2 separate regions of the Homo sapiens genome follow, and region 2 is linked to region 1. A link means that fine-mapping ties the variant in region 1 to the expression of a gene that starts in the linked region. Tissue or cell type: whole blood. Region 1 holds a variant in brackets; the other region holds the start of a gene. All regions are shown on one strand. Distances are between the middles of the regions.

The links. PIP is the estimated chance that this variant, and not a neighbour inherited with it, causes the effect.
Region 2: NHIP starts here. The variant in region 1 is fine-mapped to the expression of NHIP in whole blood (INTERVAL, PIP 0.98).

What each region holds. Positions count from the first base shown.
Region 1 is chr22:49,123,591-49,131,774 of GRCh38, reverse strand. No RefSeq gene overlaps it. Among named protein-coding and RNA genes, the nearest start is that of NHIP, 75 kb to the right of the region's middle. The variant C/T (reference allele first, on the strand shown) is at 4,556.
Region 2 is chr22:49,049,058-49,057,241 of GRCh38, reverse strand. It overlaps NHIP (neuronal hypoxia inducible, placenta associated), which reads left to right and starts at 4,857. Exons shown (of 4, transcript NR_183584.1): 1 at 4,857-6,886; 2 at 7,039-7,486; 3 at 7,779-7,847. RefSeq lists an enhancer at 4,811-4,890.

The DNA.
Region 1 (8,184 bases):
TGGTGGTGGGTGCCTGTAATCCCAGCTACTCAGGAGGCTGAGGCAGGAGAGTCGTTTGAGCCTGGGAGGTGGAGGTTGCAGAGAGCTGAGATTGCACCACTGCACTCCAGCCTGGGTGACAGAGCGAGACTCCATCTCAAAAAAACAAAACAAAACAAAATCCTGACCTAAAAAAAAATGAAAATTTGTGATATCCAAATGTATAGAACATAGCTAAAGTGGTGCCAGGAAGGAACATAGAGTATGTTTTCTCTATGTAAAGTGTTCTTCACTCACGGTAGGAAGGAAAAGGGTCTAAAATCAATGACACAAGCTTTAACTTTAAGAAATGAGAAACAGATGAGAGAAAACAAACCAAAATCAAGTGGAAGGAAAATAACAAGAATAAGAGTAAGTTATGTTTCTATATACCAGCAATGAACAACTGAAGTCTGAAATTAATGAAACAATGCCATTTACAATAGCTCAAAAGGAGATTCTTAGGAATCAATCTAATGAAACATACAGAATCTTTGTGGTAAGAATTAGAAAATACAGATAAAAATAATCAAAGAAGACCTCATAAATGAAGAGATATACTGTGTTAATAAGTTGAAAAATTCAGTATAAGAAAATGTCAGTTTCCCCTTAACTTATCCACAGATATAAATTAAGTCATTAAAATTCCAGCAAAAATTTTTTTTGTAGACATAGGGAAGCTGGTTCTAAAATTTACATAGGAAAAAAAAAACCCAAGTAGAATAGGCTAAACAATTTTGAACAAAAAAATGAATTAGGAGGAATGGTACGACCTTATTATTAAGACTTGCTTTGGGCTTCAGTCATGAAGATTGTGTCATATTGGTGAAGAGATAAACATGTAGATCAATGGAACAGAATAGAGAGCCCAGAAATAGATCGACAGAGATGTGACCAATCGATAACAATGGCACAAAGGCATTCGATGGAAAATAATAGTCTTTCAACAAAAGATGTTGGGACAATTGGATGTTCATTTACCAAAAAGTAAACTCTGATCTAAGCTTCACACCTTCTGCCTAAGTTAACCCCAAATACACCGTAGACCTAAATGTGAAAAGTAAAACTAACATTTTTAAAATAAAATATGGGAGAAAAGTTTTGTGACCAGGTTAAACAAAAAGTACTTAGACTCGGCACCAAAAGCGTGATTCCTAAAAGTCAATAAATGAACAATGGAGGCCAGGTGTTGTGGCTCACGCCTGTAATCCCAGGACTTTGGGAGGCTGAGACGGGCAGATCCCAAGGTCAAGAGATTGAGACCATCCTGGACAACATGGTGAAACCCCGTCTCTACTAAAAATACAAGAATTAGCCGGGCGTGGTGGCACTCAACTGTAATCCCAGCTACTCGTAAGGCTGAGGCAGGAGAATCACTTGAACCCGGGATGCAGAAGTTACAGTGAGCCAAGATCATGCCACTGCACTCCAACATGGTGACAGAGCGAGACTCTGTCTCAAATATATATGTATAATAAATACAAATAAAAATAAGAAAAAATGGAAAATTATCAATATTAATAGCTATTGCTTTTTCAAAGATGCAGTTAAGTGGGTGAAAAGACAAGTTACAGACCGGGAGAAGATATTTGCAAACCACATATCTGACAAATACTTGTGTCCAGAATACATAAAAAAAGCTGGAAGCTCAACAGTAAGAAAACAAACAACACAATTTAAAAATGGGCAAAACACTTGACCAGAAACTTCAGCAAAGCAGGTATGCAGGTGGCACAAAAGCACCTGACAAGACGTTCGACATAATTGGGCATTAGGTAAGTGCTAGTTAAGCCAGGTTGAGGTACCACAGCGCGTGGTGCGCACGGCTAACATGGAAACCACTGGTTCTCAGTGCTCAAGGATATGCCTAGAATCACCATGTGGGGCTGCTGAGAGGGCGACATGGGATAGCCATGTGGTTAGGCTGTGCAAAAGTAATTGCGGTTTTTGCCATTAAAGGTCCTTCCTTCCACAGGGTGCGGTGGCTCACACCTGTAATCTAGCACTTTGGGAGGCTGAGGTGGGCAGATCACAAGGTCAGGAGTTCAAGACCAGCCTGGCCAAGTTGGTGAAACCCCATCTCTACTAAAAATACAAAAACTAGCTAGGCATGGTGGTGGGCACCTGTAATCCCAGCTACTTGGGAGGCTGAGGCAGAGAATTGCTTGAACCCGGGAAGCGGAGGTTGCAGTGAGCCAAGATTGCGCCGTAGCACTCCAGCCTGGGCGACAGGGCGAGTCTCTGTCTCAAAAAAAAAAAAAAAAAAAAAAAAAAAAAAAAAAAAAAAAGCCTTCTTTCCTTCCTTCCTTCCTTCCTCCCTCCCTCTTTCTTTCTTTCTTTCTTTCTTTCTTTCTTTCTTTCTTTCTTTCTTTCTTTCTTTCTTTCTTTCTTTCTTTTTCTTCTTTCTTTCTTTCTTTCTTTCTTCCTTTCTTTTTGTTCAGATTATTTTTATTTTATAAAATGAAATGTTGCCATTAAAAGTACTTTTAATGCAAAAACCACAATTACTTTTTCACCAACCTAGTAAAAATCAGTTTGCAGTTTCTTAGAAAGTTAAACAGACATGTGCCCCTCGATACCTCTTTCGAGTGTTTATCCAAAAGAGATGAAATGCATATTCATATAAAAATGTGCATAATGCTTATGGAAGCTCTATCCATAGCCCGATACCGGCAACAATCCAAATGCCTGTCACCAAGGGAATTGATGAACTGTAATCCATACTCAGGGATACCCTGATGGAACGCGGTGGAACCCACACACTGGCATCATGCAATGCATGCCACTCAGCTGGAATGACAGGTGCGATATCGATACAGACAACGACTTGGAATAATTCAAAAGAATTATGCTGAGTGAAAGAAACCAGCCTTGAAAGCTTACATATCCTAAACTTCTCTTTGTATGACACTCTTGAGAAGGATGATGATGGTGGCGAGAATGGATTAGGGAGCGAGGAGGGCGTAACTATGAAGGGTGATGTCAGGGAGACGTTCGTGGCGACGGAAGGGCTTCCCTGCATCCTGATGGTCTGGTTGCTTAAGACTCATAACCGTACATACATGTTCTAAAATCCATTCTACTGCATTTTAATTCAAAAATACATAAAAGTACCAGCCAACAAACTTTATAAAATAACAATGGTCGGAATAAATGGAAAGAAAGAGCATGTTTTTCTACAGAATAATTTAATATCATATAATTAAATAAGTTGATATTTACTTAAAATATTAATAACCAAAAAAGTAGTGTATAAATAAAGAAATAGAATTGAATGAAAATCAAAGTAATATGAAGAAAATAAGATAGAAATCAATGAACTTGCAAATGAAGACCAACTGAGTTGCGTGGTGGCTCTTTGAGAAGAGCGATGGAATTACAAATTCCCATGAAGACTGGGCAAGGAAACAAGGCTAAACCACAGTACAGACTATTTTTTTTTTTGAGTCTCGCTCTGTTGCCCAGGCTGGTGTGCAGTGGTGCGATCTCAGATCACTGCAACCTCTGCCTCCCAGGTTCAAGCAATTCTGCTGCCTCAGCCTCTGGAGTAGCTGGGATTATTACAGACGCCCACCACCACGCCTGGCTAATTATTTTTTTTTGTATTTTTAATAGAGATGGGGTTTTGCCATGTTGGCAAGGCTGGTCTCGAACTCCTGTCCTCAGGTGATCCACCCGCTTCAGCCTCCCAAAGTGCTGGGATTATAGGTGTGAGCCACCACGCCCAGCCCACAGTACACATTTTTAGGAATGAAAAGGGTCATAGCTTTAGAAGCAGCCAAAATTAAAAAGATAACACAATAATGTGAATCATTTCACATGAATAACATTTAAAATTAGGTTGAATAGATAAATCACAGGAAAGACAACAGATCTGACTGAAGCAGAGGTGAAAAAAATAATAGTAATGGGTCAATTCTCCATTGATGAAATTGAATCAGAGATAAAAATTCTTTTCATAAAGAAAGCACAAGACTCAGCTTTTTAAAAGGCAAGTTTGACCAAACATTTATGGAACAAAAGACACACGTGTCATCCTATGCACAGTGACTGTTCCCAGCTCATTTTAAGGGACTAAGGCACCTAGAGAGTTGATCTGGTTTGGCTGTGTCCTCACCCACATCTCATGTTGAATTGTAGTCCCACAGTTTCCACGTGTTGTGGGAGGGACCTGGTGGGAGATAATTGAATCATAGGGGCCATTTCCCCCATGCTGTTCTCATTGAGTAAGTTTCATGAGGTCTGATGGTTTTATAAGGGGAAAGCCCTTTCACTTGCTTCTCATTCTGTCTTGCCTGCCACCATGTAAGATGTGCCTTTCACCTTCTGCATGATTGTGAGGCCTCCCTAGCCGCATGGAACTGCGAGTCCATTAAATCCCTTTTTCTTTTTGTTTTATTTTATTATTTTTTATGGTACTTTAAGTCCTGGGATACATGTGCAGAATGTGCAGGTTTGTTACATAGGCATACACGTGCCATGGTGGTTTGCTGTACCCATCAGCCCATCATCTAGGTTTTAAGCCCCACATGTATTA[C/T]GTATTTCTCCTAATGCTCTCCCTCCCCTTGTCCCCCAACAGGCCCCAGTGTGTGATGTTCCCCCCTCCCTGTGTCCCTATGTTCTCACTGTTCAACTCCCACTTATGAGTGAGAACATGTGAAACCTCTTTTTGTTTATAAATTACCCAGTCTCGGGTATGTCTTTTTCAGCAGTGTGAAAACAGACTGATACAATAGTAGAATAGCATTAATGTCAAAGAAGACACTTCCATTATGAAAAAGGTATAAAAGGGACAATCTCATCCATAAATACAGACACACAGATCTCAGTAATAGCAAAAGGATTGCAACAACATGGAGAAAGAAATCTCTCTTGCCACCGAGTTGAGTTTACCCCAGGAATGAGAGGGCGGCTTAACAATAGAAATCAGTTTATGTATTTCTCCATAGTAAGAAATTAAAGGAGCAAAATCATATGATTTCCCGAATGGATTCACTTAAATTACCTGATAACATTCAACATTTGAATAATAAAAGATATAATATTTACAATAAGGTCAAAAAACGTAAAGTGCAAGTAATCAATCAAAGACAAAGTATAGAACACATTTTTGTGGAAAATCACAAAAGTCTCAGACAAAATTAAATAAGGCCTGACATTTTGTAGAGATGTAGTCTATGTGTGAACTGCACATTTATTTTTATTTTATTTTATTTTATTTTGAGACGGAGTCTTGCTCTGTTTCCCAGGCTGGAGTGCAATGGCATGATCTCAGCTCACTGCAACCTCTGCCTCCTGGCTTCAAGCAACTCTCCTGCCTCAGCTTCCCGAGTAGCTGGGATTACAGGTGCCCACCACCACGTCTGCCTGATTGTGTTTTTAGTAGAGATGGGGTTTCACTGTGTTGGCCAGGCTGGTCTCAAACCCCTGACCTCAGGTGATCTGACTGCCTCAGCCTCCCAAAATGCTGGGATTACAGGCGTGAGCCGCTGCGCCTGGCCATATATATATATATATATATATATATATATATATATATATATATAATTTTTTTAAAGACATTGACTCCCTTCAAGATAAATGAGAAAATCAGTAAAATTCTAATAGAGGGAAATTAATTCAATTCTAGTAAAAATCCCATCTTTTCTTTTTCTTTGTTTTTCTCTCCCTCTCTCCTTTCCTCCTTTCCTTTGGTCCTTTTTTTCTTCTTCCTTTATTTTTAATTTTTCTTTTTTGATAAGAAGCATTGAACTAACTACTGCATTTAAAATGGGACAGAAGTCAGGCGTGGTAGCTCACGCCTGTAATCCCAGCACTTTGGGAGGCCAAGGCAGCTGGATCACCTCAGGTCAGGAGTTCGAGACCAGCCTGGCCAACATGGAGAAACCCTGTCTCTACTAAAAATACAAAAATTAGCTGGGAGTGGTGGTGCATGCCTGTAATCCCAGCTACTCAGAAGGCTGAGGCAGGAGAATCGCTTGAACCTGGGAGGCAGAGGCTGCAGTGAGCCAAGATCGCACCACTGCACTCCAGCCTAGGTGACAGAGGGAGACTCTGTCTCAAAAATAAAATATAAAATAAAATAAAATAAAATAAAATAAAATAAAATAAAATAGGACAGATTGAGACTGGAAACAGAATTGTGTACCATAGCTTAATAAAAGAAAGAAGTAGAATTGTCACTTAGATGTTTGAATAAATGGTGCTGGTTATTCTCAGTGTAAAAAATGAAATTTGATCCCAATTTCCACCATATACAAAAATTAATTCAACTTGGATTAAAGGCTAAGATGTGAAAGATAAAGTCACAAGTTTTGTAAGTCAATACAGGAAAATATTTTAATGCCTGTGGGATGGGGAGAGATTTCTTAAACAAGACACAAGAAGTACAAACTAGGACACAATACACTGATGATTTTAACTACATTAAAATTGAGAAACACTGTTCTGCAACCGTGGGGAAACTGAAAAAAGTATGTTGCAAAGGGGGACAGAATAATTGCAAAACACATGATTGACAGTAGATTTGTACCAAGAAAGTGCAAACATTCCACATACCAGAAAGAAAAAGAAAAGAAAGTTCAGTACAAAAATGTCATTCGGGCATTAGCTGGTGCAACTGGACACATTCGTGTCCTATAATCCAGCATTTCCACCTGTTAGTCTATACTCTAGAAGATCTCGTATGTGCAACTAGAGACATGTACAAGAATGTACACAGCAGTGTGTTTCATGGGACCAAAAAAGCTGAAATCAATGTCCACACCCAGCAACAGCAGAAAGAATAAGTTGTTTCCCGGAAACACGGCGCTTGCTCTGACATGAAGCAGCCTCAAGGTCTCTCTGACTTTCCTCCCGACTCCCAGGATCTTCTGTCTCTCCTGAAGCACAGGATGAGGCTGTTGCCTGAAGTTCCCTTATCTACCTACAAACAGGACCTGCCAAAGGGAAACACAACAGCCTGAGTGTTCATGACCTTGACTCATGTTACAGAAAGACTGACTTTTGTCAACACACCTGATCTGGGGCCCAACAGACTTTGTTCAAGACCGGTGTATGCTCTCCAAGCCCATTGAATCTCCCTAAAAATCATCTATCTTCCCTCTCTCTTTCATCTATGGAGGAAGGTGCATCACCTTCTGAGTAATCATTCTCCTGCAATTCCCCTGTGCTATGGACATTACAATAAATTTCGTAGGTGTTTTTTCCTACTACTCTGCATTTTGCCAGTTGATTTTCAGGGTCCTTTCAGAGGACAAAGGATAAGTTTTCCCTTGGTCTCTACAGAGTCATGTATAGCACCTCCATAAAATATAATATTGAAGTAAAATTTAATGTATTTTAGCTACAAATATCAAACATTGATGATTCTCAAAAATGTGTTAGTGTTATTTGGGGGAAAAACAAGTCATAGAAAAATACACTCAGTATGATTTCATTTATATGAAGTTCAAAACAAGCCAAATGTAAATAATATATTATTTAGGGATAGGAGTTACAGGTGTCAAACAATTTTGTGTAAAAAAAAAAAAAGGAGATGATTAACCCAAAATTTAGGATTGTTTTTCTTTCAGGAAAAAAGCAGCAGCTTGTGACCATGGAGGGAAAAAGTGCTGGGAAAAGCCCTCATCTGTGGCCAGGGGAGGCACGGGGATGGAATGGATGGCACTGAAGGGTGGACAGGATGCCTGGTACTGTAGTATGGACGGGATGGATGGCACTGGGGTGTGTATGGGATGGATGGAACTGGGGTGTGGACGGGATGGATTGCACTGGGGTGTGGATGGGATGGATGGAACTGGAGTGTGGACGAGATGGATGGAACTGGAGTGTGGACGAGAAGGATGGAACTGGAATGTGGACGAAGGGATGGAACTGGAGTGTGGGCGGGATGGATTGCACTGGGGTGTGGACGGAATGGACAGAACTGGATTGTGGAAGGGATGGATTGCACTGGAGTGTGGACGGAATGGATGGAACTGGAGTGCAGATGGGATGGATGGAACTGGAATGTGGACGAATGGATGGAACTGGAGTGTGGACAGGATGGATTGCACTGGGGTGTGGATGGGATGGATGGAACTGGGGTGTGGACGGGATGGATGGAACTGGAGTGTGGACAGCATGGATGGCACTGGAGCCTTACCCTGGATGATGAGGAACCTG
Region 2 (8,184 bases), 75 kb after region 1:
GAGCAAGGCTCTTGGGAAGAGAGGAATACAGGCAGCTTCAGGAACAGCTGGATCCAGACACAAAGCCACCTTCAGCCTTGGCTTCCAGCAGCACCCTGCTTTCTTCACTGCACAGGGCAGCATCATCCTCACACACAGCAGGGTGGGGCTGACTGTTCCTGCATTTGCACCTTCAGTTTTGGCTGCTGGAGCAACAACATTCACCACCAAGGCTAAACCACATTGGAAGAAAAACTCGTTGTCCAAGATTGAGTGAAAGGCTGATCCTAGGGCCATGATGCCATAGTCAGGGGCAGGAGCGCCCTATTCTGGAGCGTTGACGAGGAGCACTCACCCAATCCTAGGGCCATGATGCCATGGTCAGGGCCAGGAGCACCCTGCTCCGGAGTATTTAGGAGGGACACTCACCCGGCTTCTGCAGAGTGTGAGCTGTGGAGGAACTGCCCACAGCAGCCCCCCTGGAGGCTGCCTCCTGGAGCATCAAGCTGACCACCCTGTGTTTCTAACCTGCTGGGTCCTTGGGTTCCCCAGGAAAAAGTATGCAAGAATAGGGAGCTAAGAAAGTGTATTTTATTTTATTAAGGATCAAAAAAGTAAAGCAGTCTAGAGACATTTTCCACGAGAGGATGGCCCTGCAACCTCTGTGAGCCCTGCCCGCAGGGTCCAGGCTCCCAGTGTGACAGCAGACAACACCAAGGGTGCCCCAGCCCAGCACATGCAGCTGGATGACACTTCATGTCTGCAGTGTATGAAGACAACACCAAGGGTGCCCCAGCCCAGCACATGCAGCTGGATGACACTTCATGTCTGCAGTGTATGAAGGCAACACCAAGGGTGCCCCAGTCCAGCACATGCCGCTGGATGACACTTCATGTCTGCAGTGTACGAAGACCAGGAAGTGTCCAGAGTCACATCCAAAATGAAGGAAGTTTTATCCAAAGTGTCGCTATGGTTATGTCAAGGCGAAGGGTGTCTTAGTTTGAGCTGCAATCACTAATTACCATAGACTGGGGGCTGAAACACTAGGCATTTATTTCTCTCAGGTGTGGTGTCTGGGAAGCCCAGGATCATCACGGTGCTGACTCGGTGTCTGCTGAGGGCCCCCTTCCTGGCTTGGAGATGGCGCCTTCTCGTTGTGTCCTCAGTGGCAGAAGGGAATCATTTATCTTGTGTCTCTTATTCCAAGGTCACTAATCCTATTCGTGAGGGTTCATGACCTCATCACCTTCCAAAGGCCCCATCCACAAATAGCGTTACACTGCGATTAGGGCTTCAACAGAGGGATCTGGGGATTCACAATCATTCAGTCCATAATAGATGGAGAGAAAGAAAGGGAGGGAGGGAGGGTAGGGTGGAGGGGGCAGAGGAAGGGAGGAAGGAAGAGGGAGGAAGAGAGAGAGAGAGGGAGGAAGAGAGAGAGAGAGGAAGGAAGAGAGGGAGGGTGGGAAGGAGAGAGAAGGGAGGGATGGAGGGAGTGAGATGAATTTCCCTTTGAGAGTGATGCAGGTGCCGTCCCTGGTCCTCATCACAGAGGCTCCTGTAGAGGGGTCAGCCTGGGTGCTAAGGAGACCAGAACCCCGTGTCCCTATGCTCAGTAGAGGGCAGGGCACCGCTGGCCTGCAGTTGGGAGGTCCCCATCAACCCCAGCTTCCAGGAGACAGGGCCGGGGCACTCTCATTCACCATTGTGTCCTGAGTGCCCAGACATGATGGCACTTACTCAACATGGATGAAACGGAGAAGGACTTTCAGAGAAGCAGGAGACTCCTCTCCTGTCCCTGGCCCTGTCTCACTTTACGTGTCCCACATCTTTTCTGAAAGCCACCAGCCCACCCAGCTCCAGTCCTTCAACCTTTTCCAAACGTGTCACAAGTTCTCCAGGAATTACCTTCAAGCTTTCTTTTAATAAGCATTAATTTTGTCTTATTTTTAAATTGGCTCAGCTTGAGCACGGGTCAGAATGGAGTTTTTCATTGGCCCTCTATGAAACCTCAACAGAGAAACCTTGTAAAATGGGAAGGAGATTGTTGGAGTTAACATGTTGTGTAGGTTTTGTATAGTTGTAGAGGGAGTTAAAGTTACTAGGTACATTTAGATGTTGATAGGTTTAGTGTAGATATTATGAAATTTAGGTGTAATTGCTTAAAGAATAGAAATGATGTATACTACCTAAACCAGTAAAAAGCTCAAGAGAGCGACGTCTTAGAAGTACGGGTAGTACAAAGCCCTAAGTAAGGTTGCATAACTGAATTTAATACATTGTTAACTAAAAGAAATGCAAGTAAAGAAATTTATTAGAGAAAATATAGGAAATCTACCTCCCCAGGTGTCTACACATATGTAAAACATGCATTGTTGACAAGAGACATATCAAAAAGAACATAACATGGAAAGAATGAAAGCAAGATACAGAAAGTATGAGAAAAACACTAACCCAAGCAAGGCTGGAATCGCCCGATTATACCAGACAAATAGATATTAAATCAAACCACATTATCAAGAATAAAGAGAGCCACTGCATCACGAGAAACGAAATTATTTATCAGGGTCATAGCATAATTGTGAAACTTAGTATATTAACATAATTTCAAATGGATGCAATGGATAAAAACTCAAGGAGAAAAACACGAATACAAAATCATGATGAGAGTGTTCGACACAACTATCAATCCTAAAGTGGCTACACAGACCCAAAATTAGTAGCGAAGGATTCTTGTCAAGATAATTAATAAGTTTTCTATAATAGCTGCTTCAAATCTGTGAACCTAAGAATCAAGCATTCATGAGACATTTAGAAAAATTCCAACAATTACTAAAAAAATAAGTATTTATGGACTACATTCTCTGAACTCCACATATCGAAATTAGAAATAATGAGAAAAACAGCCCCATAAATATGGAACCATAAAAACCTATTTCTGAAGGAATCGTAAATCAAGGAAGATTACAATCAAAATTTGAAAATATTTGAAACACAATGACCACATAAATGCTGCATATTGAGACTTCTGGAGTGAATGCAGAGAATGCTTCACCTAGGAAGGGTCAGCAAACTGTCTCTGTGGAGGGGCAGGTAGTAGTGTGCTTGAGGCCTATTGCAAAGCAGGTGACTAGCAAAACTGTCTTGTGGAGGGGCAGGTAGTAGCATGCTTGAGACCTACTGCAAAGCAGGTGACTCTGGTTAACAATAATGTGTTGTATATTTCAAAATAACTAAGAGAATCAATGGATATATTAATTGGCTTTAATTAATCACTCCATGTTTTGCACATACATCCAAATACCACATGGCATTTCACAAGTGCAGATGATGATCATTTCCCATTTAAAAATATTATTACTAATATTTTTTACAAACAAAAATAAAAATATATTTGGCTTTGTGGGATAGTCTCTGTTGCATCTCCTCTTCTCTGCTGGATTGGTCAGAAAGCGAACACAGGCAGTATGAAAATGAAGAGGTGTGGCTCTGTTCCCGTAAGCTACGGTTAGCAGAAATCCCTCATTTACATGAAAATGTGTCACCTTTAACATATGTAGGAAGTAAGAAAAACTTTAAAATAAAGCTTGACTTAAAACATCAGAGAATAACAGAATAAACCTAAAGAAGCTAATGAATAGAAAATCTATAATTATGTCCTTAAATTCATAAAAACAGACACCAAGAAATAACAGAGAGGACCACTGTCTTATTCTGTTTTCTGCTGCTGTAATGAAATGCCACCGGCTGGGTAATTTATAAAGAAATGAGATTTATTTCATTCGCAGTTCTGGAGACTACAAAGTCCAGGACAATGGTGCTGGCATCTGGCAAAGGTCATCCCATGGGAGAAGGATGGAGGGCAGGAGCCAGGGCCTGAGTCCGAGCAGGAGAGGCCAGGCTCACTTTAGAAACCCCACTCTTGAGGTAACAAACCCACTCTCTCGATAATGACATTAATCTGTTTATGAGGGTGGAAGCCTGATATGGTTTGGCCGTGTCCTCACCCAAATCTCATCTTGAATTGTAGCTCCCATAATCCCCATGTGTCATGGGAGGGAGCCAGTGGGAGGTAACTAAATCATGGGGGTGGTTTTCCCCCAGGCTATTCTGACAGTACTTTCTCACGAGATCTGATGGTGGTTTTTTTTTTTTTTTTTTTTTTTTTGAGATGGAGTCTCGCTCTGTTGCCCAGGCTGGAGTGCAGTGGCACGATCTCGGCTCACTGCAACCTCTGCCTTCTGGGTTCAAGCGATTCTTCTGCCTCAGCCTCCTGCCTGGACTGGTATAGACACAAATGTGCTAACACTGAGTCTGAAAACACTTCCTTGGATCTTGGATCTAAACTCTCACTGCTTCTCTTCTGATTATAAACCATTTCACAGCCCCCGGCAGTTCAGAAGGCCCTGAGCCCAGGCGGGAACTCAGACTGAATTGCGATGTCATTCAGGCATTAAAAGCACGCATGGGCTCAGAGTGCTGCTTGCTTGACGTTTCCCGTCTGTGAAGCAATTTTATTTAAATTCTACGCAAAATAGAACCCTTTGCTCTTCTTCCCAGAGTCCTGCCCGGTGGGAAGTTCGCTGGAGGCGCAGCAGGGAGCAGCCTGGCTTTTCCTACGGGGTCATTAGAAGCCTCGCTGGGAGAATTTCCCAAATATTTTGCTGTTTGCTCAAACACACTTTTATATTTTGAATCCAGGCATTTGAGAGAGAAATCTGTAGCGTCTGAAGCATGGGTCTGTGGTTCTCAGCGGAACACACGGTCCCAAAAGGCCCTTCCCAAGATGGCCGGGGCTTCCGCCTGCCGCCCTCCCTCCCGTGGTGCTGAGCGCAGGCTGGGCGCGGCCACATCACCCTAAGGGCGTGGGTGTCGGAGTCTTGCAGGCTGGGGTCCCAGGTGAGAGATGCCAGCAGGGAGCTCTAGATGGGGAACTGGGTGAGCCTGGCTCGGTAAGGGCGTGCTCAGAACACCCCATCCCCGAACACGGTCTTGTGTGATAAAATGTCACGCAAGAAGAATCTGAAACCGCGAGAAGAGGAGGACACGGCCAGACTGCACCGAACCCCGGCACCTCTGTGGGGAAAAGCAGGTCAGGCTGAGCGGGGCCGGCGGGGACACGCGCTCCTGGGCTTCTCCAGAGTCTGCCGGGGCCGGGCCCGGGACCGAGGCTGGGACGCGCTGTGCAGTCCCACCCCTCACACCCCTCGCACGCCTGGAAACACCCTCGGGGTAACACAAGCCGGGGTTGAGTTTCTTGAAGAGAAGCTGGCTGCATCCTGGAGCCAGGGAAAGAGGAGCACAGGGGCCAAGCGGTCCAGGGCCACGGAGGAGCAGGACCCCTGGGGAAAGGCCCGGGTCTAGGCCGGGGCCAGGGGACCGTGGTGGAGACCTCAAAAATGGCAGAACACGGAAGCAGGGCGAGAAAAGTAAACGTAGTCCTTGCGGCAGTTTGAAATACACGCGGGTAAACGCTGGGTGACTCCGCCCGGATGCAGAGTGGGGGTCTGTGTCTCTCCCCACAGGCTGCAGGGACCGGGCTCTGGGTAACCAGCAGAAGGTAACAGAACGAGGCTGCTTTTCCTCCAGGCTGTTCTGGTGTCCGCGCGTGGCTTGTGCGCTGACTCCTGACTTGGAGCGCCGCGTGGCCAGAGAAATCTGGGTGCCTCCAGGCCACCATGGTGAGAGGAGAGGCCACCGCACGAACGGAAGAAGCGATGGAGACGGTCTTTACGACCTAAGAACAGAAAGAGTTTCTTATACACAATCCGAAAAGTAAAAATTGATTGATTGATTGATTGAGATGGAATCCCACTCTGTCGTCCAGGTTAGAGTGCAATGGCTTGATCTCGGCTCATTGCAACCTCCGCCTCCCGGGTTCAAGCGATTCTCCTGCCTCAGTCTCCCGAGTAGCTGGGATTATAGGCGCCCGCCACCACGACTGGCTAATTTTTATATTTTTAGTAGAGACGCAGTTTCACCGTGTTGACCAGGCTGGTCTTGAACCCCTGACCTCAGGTGATCCGCCTGCCTCGGTCTCCCAAAGTGCTGGGATTACAGGCGTGAGCCACCGTGCTGGGCCAAAAATCAATTTTAAAACGACCACATGAAAAATAAATCTCCTGTATCACAGAGCATGTTCTGAGGAAAATGAAAGCCACAGATCCAGAAGATATTTGTGACACATATGAAAAACAAAAACTCATATTCAAAACATACACAGCATTGCTATGAATCATTAAGAAAAATGATTTCGTCTCCTCTACAGGAGCCTGAGTGAAGGACAAGGACAGATCATTATAAACCAGGGAGCTTGAAGAGCTAGTTAACAAGCACAGAAAATATGTTCCCCCACACTGTTAATCAAGAAAATTAAAACTGTAATGAGATGCCGCATTGTATCCATGGGATTTCTAAAAGTACAAAGTTCCACAATACCCGTTGTTGACGGAGCAGGGAAACCGCAGGAGCCTGCAGGAGATGAGATTGTAAATGTGCAAGGACATTTTGGAGAAGAGTTGACAACATCTCACTCACGTGTATCAAGCCAAGTGCCGAAAGAAGAATTGGTTGTCATAAAGAAAACAGAAACCCAGAATGGATGTAGCTTATCCCTCCGATGGAAAGTTACAAAGAAGTTAAAATGAATGGGCTGCATCTCTGTGTAACAATTTGGATCAATATCAAAGACACATTTGTTAAAGCAAGGTGTACAATGAAACCTGCAACATGATTTGTCTGTTTAGTAAAACACAGAAAATCTAACTCCGCCTGGCTTACGAACACACACATGTGTTAGAATTTGGGAAAAGGAAAGGGAGGGAGGCCGGCTACACGTGAACTTTTGGAAAATCTCAGAGGGTCTGGGGCACCAGGTGGAGACCATGGCAGCCTTCAGGGATATGAGGTGAGTCCTTCAACTACATTTGCAAGGTTTTATTTCTTAGGAAAATATTTAAAGCAAATATTTCAAAAATGACTAAATCTGAGTGGTAGGGAGTCACTGTTTTATAGATTATTCACTTTTCCCTGGGCTTGGAATGTTTCGTTTTTTCAAAGGTCAAATGAGATGCTGCCTTTCCACCAGATAAAGATTTACCTGGTGCCTCTGTTACTGCCCAGCAGCGCCTGAGGACGTGGGGGCTGCTGCCCAACACGGAGGCTGGGCTGGCCTGGTCCGTGGGCTCAGGTTCTCATCCTCTGCACGTGCATCTGCCTCCTGTGCGTCTCTGTGCACACGCTTGTATCTGGATGCAGAGTCCTGTGCCCAGTGTACATGCACAGATGTGCGCATCTGGGTAGATGTGCTGGTTCGCTGTGTGAGCATGCACAGACCCTTGTTCACCGTGTGTGCGCATCCGTGCAGTGTGGACATCTGGACAGGACCCCGTGCTCCCTGTCTCTGCCGCTGAGATGTTTCCTAGCTGTGCACAGAATTCACTCTCCTACTGGAGGGCTCTGACTGAAAGCTCTGATGCGGCAGGCCTTCTCTTGACACTTGGTTAAGGTATGCCTCTCACATCTGTATGCCCACATCTGCTCTCCTCCCTCCCTCCTTCTCAGCACTTAGCCCTCTGATATGGTTTGCTGGCGTCCCCACCCAAATCTCATCTTGAATTGTAGTTCCCATAAATCCCCACGTATTGTTCGAGGTACCCCGTGGGAGATAATTGAATCATGGGGGTGGTTACCCAGATGCTGCGGTTCTCGTGTTAGTGAGTTCTCGTGAGATCTGATGGTTTTATAAGGGGCTTTTCCCCCTTTTTCTCGGCACTTCTCCTCGCTGCCGCCACATGAAGAAGGATGTGTTTGCTTCCCCTTCTGCCATGATTGGAAGTTTCCTGAGACCCCTCCAGCCATGCTGAACTGTGAGTCAATCAAACGTCTTTCCTCCATAAATTACCCAGTCTCGGGTATGTCTTTATTAGCAGTGTGAGAATGGACTCACACATTCTCCTAATGTAGTATACATGTGTTTGCTCATTTGTCACCATCTCTCCATCTCTAGTCTCTAGAATATGAGATCTGTAAGAACAGGGACACCTAGAATACGAGATCTGTAAGAATAGGGACATTGTCTGTATCAGGTGTTCATGGCTCAATCCCAGCACCTGGAACAGCATGAGGCACCTGGCAGGTGCCTGACAAACATTTGCAGGGAATATGTGTGCATGAACCTGCATGGGCAGGAACAGGTGCATAGGA